Regions from separate parts of the Homo sapiens genome. Here region 1 is linked to region 2. The links come from fine-mapping of genetic effects on gene expression. A gene starts in region 2. The other region holds a variant in brackets. All regions are shown on one strand. Distances are from middle to middle.

What was found. PIP is the estimated chance that this variant, and not a neighbour inherited with it, causes the effect. A credible set is the group of variants that fine-mapping cannot tell apart.
Region 1: its variant is the best candidate, but not a certain one, in a credible set for the expression of GPR135 in T cells (TOPMed, PIP 0.69).

What each region holds. Positions count from the first base shown.
Region 1 is chr14:59,486,986-59,492,367 of GRCh38, reverse strand. JKAMP (JNK1/MAPK8 associated membrane protein) reads right to left here. Exons shown (of 7, transcript NM_016475.5): 3 at 4,540-4,694. LOC124903326 (a long non-coding RNA gene) reads right to left here and starts at 4,533. Exons shown (of 2, transcript XR_007064196.1): 1 at 1,502-4,533; 2 at 317-807. It also overlaps a transcript of L3HYPDH not described here. The variant C/T (reference allele first, on the strand shown) is at 2,866.
Region 2 is chr14:59,462,930-59,468,311 of GRCh38, reverse strand. It overlaps GPR135 (G protein-coupled receptor 135), which reads left to right and starts at 2,932. Exons shown (of 1, transcript NM_022571.6): 1 at 2,932-5,382. The coding sequence starts at 3,086. The coding sequence ends at 4,570. It also overlaps a transcript of L3HYPDH not described here. RefSeq lists a silencer at 2,862-3,401.

The sequences.
Region 1 (5,382 bases), 24 kb before region 2:
CCTGATTTTCCATCTCCTTCTTTCTCAGTGCAATATTCCATTATTTCTATGCATTTTTTTCTAGTTCACTAATTCTATCTTCAACTGTTTAATCTGCTGACTACCTTTTTTTTTATTTTGGCAAGTATAAACTTTCATTTCTAAAAGTTTCCTTTTCTTCCCCATCACATGTATTTATTCCTAATAATCTTATTGTTATGGACAGCTTGTGACTACATCCTTACTTTCTTTATAGGTAGCAGTTACATATCCTGTAGGTGAAAGTCCATTATCTGTGTCCTCTCAGAGCATAAATATATTGTTTGTTGCATGTACCAATAAGTCCTAGTGCTATTTTATTTAGTAACCACAGACTATGAGGCCATTACTAGATTTTAATGAGCAAGAGTCTTACAGGGTTAAATTGAGAATGGGGAAGCTTTCCAGCAAAGAGGCTCTGCTACTTTTGTCAGCAGCCATGGCCACTACTACCTTAGGCTTCAGGCCCTTGAGGGTCTAGTCTTAGCAGAGGCTACCCAAGATTCAGTATCCAGATAACACTGCTGCTACCAGCAATTGACCTCAGACAACCCTCTCATCCCAACTGCCTGCCTTGTCACTCTGGCCTAACTCAGGGTGGGCTGGTTTGTGTTTTGAAAGAGAAGAGTTCCTGGAGATCTCTCCATCTCCAGCTGGGACCAGCAATGTCTCACATAGTTTATCTTTCCCAGACTTTAGTTATTTCATGCAGGTGGGTCACTTGGAGCTCCTAATTAACTCACATTGTTGGAAACAGAACTCCTGTGCCATTTTACAAAGATGAAAACACTGAAAACATAAACACACATTCACATTACATAATTTGACATTTTGCTTCCTTATAGAATTAATATTTTCAGAGGCAAAATCCCAACTTCATTATTTCTTGCCATTACTTTGATAACCTTCTTAACTGGTCTTCTTGTCATGTTCTCTTTCAACCTATCTACAGCCAGACACATAATCTTTACAAAATGAAATACAATTTTAGAACTCCTCTCATTAAACTAATTTTGAGTCTTTTTGTCTTTCTGGAAAAATACCCCCACCAGCATCGTCTTCTCTATTTCCTGGCCATGCTAAATGACTTTAAGTTCACTTGTGCCTCCACACATCTGGGCATGCATCACCCTCCACCTCAAACACATTTTACCTATCTGCCAAACCATGCATCCTTCCAGATCAGCTCAGGGGTTATCCCCAGTTTTTATGAACATTTGTTAAGACACCTCCAGCCCCCATCTATCTGGACTGTAAGTGCAAAATTTCAGGAAACTGTAAGAGATGGCCCTTGTGGTCCTTGTTACCAATTTCCTAGGCAAAGCACAGTTGTACAACTCCCTCTTTTTAAACCCACCTCCTTTCCTGTCTGAGCATTAGTCACTCCTCGCCTTCCCTCAAACCACCCTCTAGTCTCTGCTTCAAGTCTCTCCCTCAAAACATAGCTGACGTCTGAATTCAAACGCATTTGGTGAAGACATACCTATGCCTGTTAGCTCTTCTTTACTGTGGGCTGAGAACTTCCCACCAATTGACTGGACAATTATTCTATTTCAGCTTTGTCATATCTCCTTTCTCACCCCATCTCTCATCATTCTATTAATATAACAGAAATTAAAAACTGGATGAAAGCTGCTATTTTTAAAGTATTTTTATAAATTATTCTAAAAAATTATAAATGCTTTCCCAATGTAAATAACCACCCTGGATTTATTAGGTAGGCCCCAGAAAACTGCTGATTCTATTTCTATCTGACCATCCTTTCCATTTCCATTCCAACTACCATAGTCTATTTCTTTGACAACAGTCTTCTATTAAATATCTCACCTCTAATCTACCTACCCTCCACAGAAATTTTCTTCCTAAAATATACATCAAATGATGCCACTTCCATACACCAGACCTTCACCAATAAACGATTCACTCAAATACGGAGTGATTTTTTTGGATGCTCATTCCCTCCAAATCTCATGTTGAAATGTAATCCTCAGTGAGGTGGGGCCTAGTGGGAAGTATTTGGGTCATGGGAGTGGAAGCCTCATGAATGACTTGGAGCTGTGCTCACAGTAATGAGTGAGTTCTCACTCTGTGAGTTCATGTGAGATTTGGTTGTTTAAAAGATCCTGGTGGCTGGGCATGGTGGCTCACATCTATAATCCCAGCACTTTGGGAGGCTGAGGCAGGAGGACTGCTTGCGCCCAGGAGATCGAGACCAGCCTGGGCAACATAGAGAGACCCTGTCTCTACAAAATATAAAAAATTAGCAGGGTATGGTGGTACACGCCTGTAGTCCCAGCTACTTGGAAGGCTGAGATGGGAAGATCACTTGAGCCTAGGAAGTCAAGGTTGCAGTAACCAGTGATCACACCACTGCAATACAGCCTAGGTGACAAACCAGGACATTGTCTCGAAAAATAAAAACGAAAAGATAAATTAAAAAATAAAACATTAAAAAAAATGAAAGAAAGAGGTACCTCCTCCCCCTATCACCATGTGGTTCCCCTTTGCCTCCTGCCTCCTCTCACACTGGTTCCCCTTTGCCTTCTGCCATGATTGTAAGCTTCCTCAAGCCATCACCAGAAGCAGATGCCAGTACTATGCTTCATGTACAGCCTGCAAAACCATGGGCCAATTAAACCTCTTTTCTTTATAAATTACCCAGTCTCAGGTATTCCTTTATAGTAATGGAAATGGACTAACAGAAAACTGAAACTGAAGGGTAGGGCAGTGCTATAAAGATACCCAGCTTTGGAGCTGGGTACCAGACAGAGGCTGAAAGTGTTTGGAGGTCTCAGAAGAAGACAGGAAGGTGAGGGAAAGCGTGGAACATCTTAGAGCCTTAAGTGG[C/T]TGTGACCAAAATGCTGACAGAAATGTAGACAGTGAAGGCCAGGCTGATGAGGTCTCACATGGAATTAAGGAAGTTATCAGGAACTGTAGTAAAGGTCATCCATACTATGCCCTAGCAAAGAACTCTGCTGCATTGTGTCCATGTCCTAGGCATCTGTGGAAGTTGGAACTTAAGAGTGATGACTTAGGGTATCTAGTGGAAGAAATCATTAAGCAACAAAACATCCAAGATGTGCTGTGGCTGCTTCTAACAGCCTATGATCAGATAGATGTGGGAGCAAAGGAATGACTTAAAAATTGGGACTTATACTTAAAAAGGAAAGCGGAGTCTAAAAGTTTGGAAAATGTGCAGCCTGGCCATGTGGTAGAGAAGAAAAGCATTTTCAGGAGAGGAATTCAACCAGGCTGTACAGCAACTTGCTAGAGAGGTTAGCATGGCTAAAAGAGAGCCAAGTGCTAATAGCCAACACAATGAGAAAAAGGCTTGAAGGCATTTCAGAAGTCTTTCAGACTGCCTGTCCGACCACAGGCCCAGAGGCCTAGAAGGAAAGAATAGAAAGTAGGCTGTCTTCCTTATTTTTCTCTTTTAATTGGGCACTCTTTGTTTTGTTGTTGTTGTTTTGTTTTTAGTACTCAACTTTCTGAGTGACTTTTAAACTGAAATCAGAAGGAAAAGAAGGTAGCTAGGTAACAAGTTGCAGTCAGATGAAGAGAGTATTTCAGACAGCAGAAAGAGTTTGCAGGAAGGGAAAGAACCTAAAGTAGGAAAGATCCTGAGAAGTTGGAGGAACTAAAAGAAAATCAGTAAGGCAGAATTTGACTTCCCATTCCCAGCAGATTAAAGTTCACATGCTTATCAAGAACCTTCACATTCTGGCCTCAACCTATCTTTCCTACTCCCCTTTATATTACTTTTCTTCATTTGCAACCCACTCTTGACTACCCCAGATTACTTCCATTCCTGCCTACCACAGATCACATATTTCATACCTCTATGCCATTATTCATGCTGTTTCTTCTGCCTAAAATGTTCCTTTTTTGAAATCTTTCAGATCCCATGAGGCATAATTTATCTCTCTGTTCTTTGTAACTCCAGAGTACTTTGTTTATAACTCTTCCACTACATTTCTAAGACTGATTTATAATTATGTACACACTTGTTTTCTCCACAAGATTATGACTATAAGCCATGTCAGTTATTTTTATATCTCCTTCCCTGATCTTCCAAACATAAAATGCAGTGCTTAGTAAATGTGTGCTGATTTAATATGTTAATATGAGTTTTTGTATTAGGTTACAGCTATATCATTTTTAACTACATCATACTAGATTATTAGTATTAAATTAAATTACAAAGAATGTGTTCCATAACAATAAATAGCTTGTAATCATAACCAATTTTGTGTAGAAAACCAATAAGGATTATAGTTGAGAAGTAAAAGTATTCCTTCAAGATCACTGAGAGTAAAACAGACTAAGGACAGTTCCCTTAAAAATTACTAAGTCATGCCCTATTGTTAAGTTTTCTTGTCACAGTTAAGAATAATCTGAAGATAAAGAAAAACATGTTTACCACTTTTAAAACAGAAGAAGCATAATTACTTAATAAGGTCTTCTGAGTGATAATTATTCCAACATTAGTCCAGCCAGATATGTTCATAGAAATGTGCTAACCTCTTTTTCCCCGAGTACCATTCAATGAAGAACCAATGTAAAACCAGAGGAAGCATTGCCATAAATCCAAGATAGAGCCAATCATAAAGTTCAGGAGATTCTGTGCAAGGCTGACAATATTTCTGTGCATTCGTTCTCTGTCCTCTTGGGCATACCTATAATATATAAAACCAATATTTTGTGTACAGATATTATTTTACAACATTAACACCCCCCCAAATCATTCTATAAGACATCCCATTTCAGTTTAAATATTTAAGTTTACATGTGCAGCTTTTAGAAATAAAAAAGAGGGCATAAGTAAAATAAAAAGAAATCTATATTGTATGTGCTATATTTGTACAATGCTCTTAGAAGATTCCTTTTACTAAGTTACTAAAATAGTTGACTAACATTCAATGAAAAACCTAGTTATTAACATTATATAAGAATAACTGCAGATAAATGTTCTGGATTCATGATGTTCAACTTACTGTACAAGACACGGTACCAAATCATAAATTAGAAATTATTATAAAATTATTAAATGTTTTAAAAAATAATATAGACATCAAAATGCCAACATGAACAATGACTATATTAATGCCTCCATATTCTTTTATATTTCCTTATTTTATTTTTTTTTTGAGACAGAGTCTCCCTCTGTTGCCCACGCTGGAATGCAGTGGTGCAATCTTGGCTCACTGCAACCTCCACCTCCTAGGTTCAAGCAATTCTCCTGTCTCAGCCTCCCGAGTAGCTGGGACTACAGGCGCACACAACTATGCCCAGCTAATTTTTTTCTATTTTTAGCAGAGATGGGGTTTCACCATATTGGTCAGGCTGGTCTCGAACTCCTGACCT
Region 2 (5,382 bases):
TCAAATCATGCAGTGCCTTGTAGGAAATATTAAGGATTGGGGTCCTTATTCTAAAATAAATGGGGAAAGCCAATAGGATTTTTTTTAAAAGAGACATGGTCTCACTATGTTGCCCAGGCTGGCCTGTAACTACTGGGCTCATACGATCCTCCCTCCTCAGCTTCCTAAGTACCTGGGACTACAGGCACATGCCACTACACTGGCCTAATTAGAAGAGTTTAAATAAGTAAGTGGCATGAAGAATTTTTTTAAGAGCATTATGCCTAGCTGCCTACAATGTAGGAACTGGATGTGGGAAGACCGGTTAGGACAACAGTGACAACAGTAGTCCAAAGAGAGGATGAGAGCCAAGATTCAGGATGGAGGAGATGAATGGATGCAAAGATAGTCCGCAACTAAAATCCATAGGTCTTGGTTGATGAATTGGATGTGGACTGGTGGTAAGGAGGAGGGATTCATCAAGGAAAACTCTTAAGTTTTTGGCTTAAAAGCTAGAAGGATGGTTCTACCATATTCTGAGATACAGAGTATTGAAGACCAAGTTTTACCGGGGAAGTAGGAAGAAGATCATGCACCCATTTGATGTGCCACTGGCACATCAAGGAGAGAGATGCCAAGTAGCAGGACATGTAGGTTGGGGCCACAGACATAATTTGAGTAATGAATATATAGATTATCTTTGAAGTCCTGGATGTGAGTGAGATGGGGCCGAGGGGGGAGTCCAGAGGAGCTGAGAACAGGGCTTTGATGAACTCCAGCATGTAAAGGCAGGTGGAAGAGGATGAACTGGCAGAGGAGAGGACACTGAGAAAGATGAGGAAGGAAGGAAGCAGAAGAGTGCAGTCCTTCTGGTCCTTCTGAACCATGCACTTGCTCACGGCCCTCCCTTATGCTATTAGCCCCTCCTCCCCTGATGAAGTTCAGTCTCCAGAGCATGGCCTACAAGGCCCATCATAAGGTAGCCCCAATAAACTTTGATCATTTATTTCCTTCTTCACTCCCCATCTCCAATATCCTAGAATTCAGACACTGCTCACTTCAACACTAACCTCCAGACTTTGCACATTCATCAAATGTTCTTTCCCTTTCTTCTTTTTTTAAAAAGTCTAATGTCACCTCTTGTACAAAGTCTTTGTCAGGAAGACAAATAATTTCACTCACATATTTTTAAGACAATATTTAGCACACTGTAATATACTGTGTTGGCCGGTGGCTTAAGCTTATTTGGGCTGGGTTTCCTATCTTATATGTTGTTTCCTAAAACTAAGCACAATCTGAGAAGATTGTGTTTGCCAAATAAATTAATGTATGATAATTATATTTTTGCTTTGATTGACAAAATTAAGACAAAATCAGTCTAGATTAAGCTGGCATTGACTGCTCCCAAGAGGATATTTGGCAATATCTGAAGACAGTTTTAGTTGTCACAGCTGGGAGAGGTGCTACTGGCATCTCGTAGGTAGGAACTAGGGATGCTGCTGAACATCATACAATGTATAGATGGCCCCTGCAATAAAGAATTATCTGGCCCAAAAGTCCATGACGCTTAGGCTGACAAACCCAGTTTTGGTTTGCCACCTTAAACGTTCTTCTATTTATACTGTAAATTTCCTGTAGGATATTTTTTCTGAATGAAATAAGCACTCCAATACTAATACCATTGATTCTAAGATCTACAAATATACTAGTCATTCTTTAGAGCAGTGTTTCTCAAATTTGTGCATCAGAATCACTGGGAGGGCTTGTTAAAACATAGGTGCCTGGGCCCCACCACAGGAGTTTCAGTAGATCAGGGGTATCCTATGCACTGTAGGCCTGATAATTTGTATTTCTCAAGGTTTCCAGGGGATGTTGATGCTGCTGGTCCAATGTCCATACTCTGTGAACCACTGCTTTAGCGAAGAGCCCAGGGTTAGTTAACCTGAGGGTTTATCACACTTTTCCCCATTAGAGGCCATGCCCAGAAACTTGAGATGCAACTTCCCTGGGTAGCCCTGCCTTTCTTTTCCCCGTATCTCCCAGCCAGGTACCTGGAGCTGCATCTGTGGTGATTGCCAGGCTGGCAGCACCTTAGACTCAAAACATACCCCATTCCTGAGAACAGATGAAGGCTGCTAGCAGGGCAAGGCACCAATCCCTCTCCCCCCATTTATCAGCCAGTAGGGGCCTGAGGTCCAGGCCCTTGGAAATGAAGTAACATCTAAAGGAACTATCCTAGCTCCTCAGAGCACCTGTATCAGAATCACCTACGGGGTTTAGAGTCATGGGCCCATCCTTAGTAATTCTGTCAGCCTGGGAATCTGCATTTTATGAAACTCTTGACATCAGTGCTTCTGTAAGTGTGGTCCTGGGACCAGCATCATCATCACCACCCGCGAACCCGTTAGAGATACAAATTCTTGGGTACTTCCCCAGACATATTCGAAACGCTGGGGTTCAGACCTCGTCACTTGTATTTTAACACGCCCTCTATGTGAATTCTGTTAGCTCAAGTTTGAGAATTACTGGTTTAAATTAGTCTGCTTCTCAAGTTTAAGATGTCTGGATGTAGACTTCTGGATTTTTCTTTCACTTCACTTTCTAGATTCCTTTCCTACCTGTATATACCAAAAGCACCCACAGGAAGCAGAGTGCCCCCCCCACCACTCCCCAAAAGGCCTGCCTGTAGAACATTTGTACCCTACAAAAGAGAGCAAGAGTGAACTTTCGTTGAATCTGGTCATTTGTTTGCATGCCAGTCGGCACTTTATCTGGCCGGACATTGGTCCCTCAGGAGGTCGACCTGGCACTCTCGGAAACCCGAACACCCGGGCCGGTAACCTCCGGAGTGGCGGTGTCGCGGGTCGGCTTTGCAGCGGGTACTGGGCTGCCGTCCCGCCCCGCGCTCCTGCGTAAACACGCGGTTCCCTCGGCAACGCTGGAACCCACGTCAAAGGCTCCGCCAGGTCCCCAGCGACCGCCACCCCTCCGGCCGAGCCCAGCTCCCCGCGGCGGCCGCTAGCCCCCGGCCCCGAGCCACCACTCCGACCTAGCGGCCGCCGCCCCCGGTGCGGGATGAGGAGATCCGCGGCCGCCACTGGGCCCCATGGAGGAGCCGCAGCCGCCCCGCCCACCAGCGAGCATGGCCTTACTGGGCAGCCAGCACTCCGGCGCCCCCTCCGCGGCCGGCCCACCTGGCGGGACTTCCTCCGCGGCCACGGCGGCCGTGCTCTCCTTCAGCACCGTGGCGACCGCGGCGCTGGGGAACCTGAGCGACGCAAGCGGAGGCGGCACAGCTGCCGCTCCCGGTGGCGGCGGCCTTGGCGGGTCCGGGGCAGCGCGGGAGGCGGGGGCGGCGGTGAGGCGGCCGCTAGGCCCGGAGGCGGCGCCGCTGCTGTCGCACGGAGCTGCAGTGGCGGCCCAGGCGCTCGTCCTCCTGCTCATCTTCCTGCTGTCTAGCCTTGGCAACTGCGCGGTGATGGGGGTGATTGTGAAGCACCGGCAGCTCCGCACCGTCACCAACGCCTTCATCCTGTCGCTGTCCCTATCGGATCTGCTCACGGCGCTGCTCTGCCTGCCCGCCGCCTTCCTGGACCTCTTCACTCCGCCCGGGGGTTCGGCGCCTGCCGCCGCCGCGGGGCCCTGGCGCGGCTTCTGCGCCGCCAGCCGCTTCTTCAGCTCGTGCTTCGGCATCGTGTCCACGCTCAGCGTGGCGCTCATCTCGTTGGACCGTTACTGCGCTATCGTGCGGCCGCCGCGGGAGAAGATCGGCCGCCGCCGCGCGCTGCAGCTGCTGGCGGGCGCCTGGCTGACGGCCCTGGGCTTCTCCTTGCCCTGGGAGCTGCTCGGGGCGCCCCGGGAACTCGCGGCGGCGCAGAGCTTCCACGGCTGCCTCTACCGGACCTCCCCGGACCCCGCGCAGCTGGGCGCGGCCTTCAGCGTGGGGCTGGTGGTGGCCTGCTACCTGCTGCCCTTCCTGCTCATGTGCTTCTGCCACTACCACATCTGCAAGACGGTGCGCCTGTCGGACGTGCGCGTGCGGCCGGTGAACACCTACGCGCGCGTGCTGCGCTTCTTCAGCGAGGTGCGCACGGCCACCACCGTCCTCATCATGATCGTCTTCGTCATCTGCTGCTGGGGGCCCTACTGCTTCCTGGTGCTGCTGGCCGCCGCCCGGCAGGCCCAGACCATGCAGGCCCCCTCGCTCCTCAGCGTGGTGGCCGTCTGGCTGACCTGGGCCAATGGGGCCATCAACCCTGTCATCTACGCCATCCGCAATCCCAACATTTCGATGCTCCTAGGGCGCAACCGCGAGGAGGGCTACCGGACTAGGAATGTGGACGCTTTCCTGCCCAGCCAGGGCCCGGGTCTGCAAGCCAGAAGCCGCAGTCGCCTTCGAAACCGCTATGCCAACCGGCTGGGGGCCTGCAACAGGATGTCCTCTTCCAACCCGGCCAGCGGAGTGGCAGGGGACGTGGCCATGTGGGCCCGCAAAAATCCAGTTGTACTTTTCTGCCGAGAGGGACCACCAGAGCCGGTGACGGCAGTGACCAAACAGCCTAAATCCGAAGCTGGGGATACCAGCCTCTAAGACGGTTGGAATGGCCAGCTTATGAAGGCAAATTTCCACTCGCATTATTTAATGATGGAAGATTCTGGGGGAGAGTTGTGGATTTCATAAAGCCAAACATTTAAAGCTAGAGACGGGGGAGGCTTACCACTTTCCCCAAACAACATAAAAGACAATGTCCCTTCTTCAAAAGTGCCAAAAGGAATGTAAAATGCAAAAATTAAAACAATCTTAAACCACATAACCAAGCATTGTGAACTGTAAGTGCCAAAAATGACAAAAATAACATTCACTATAACTGAAAAGCTCATATTATAGGACCACACTGTGAAACAAACAAAACATTGAATGCAACCAGTATTGTTCAACTACACAGAATTTCAGGAATGAATGGAGACCTTCAGAGCTGCTTGAAAGCCCCTCTAAATCGCTACCATCCAACAAAACTTTAGCTTCTAGAGCTTGCACCTCTGACATGCTTTGGGTGCTTAGATTGCAAGTGGAAAAGTCTTATCCTTACACACATTGGTGCACCTCCTCACCCCACCCCCTAATAACCTTTGTGGAAAATTTTTAATTCATAACCCATTTAAAATCATTTTAGGATTTTGAAAAGCTGGTTATTATTAGATAAAATTCAACCATCTGAAGGACAAATAGAAGTATGAACATAAAGAAATGTGTCTTTTAAATGTTTTCCAAGATTATATGTAAAAATTAACATTCCTTCCACCCGCGTCATACCTCCAAAATGATCTTCCTTGGAAAACTTTGAAGTTTTATCCTTACTCTAACCTGTTACTTTTATTTCTGATAAATTTTGGAATGCTGCT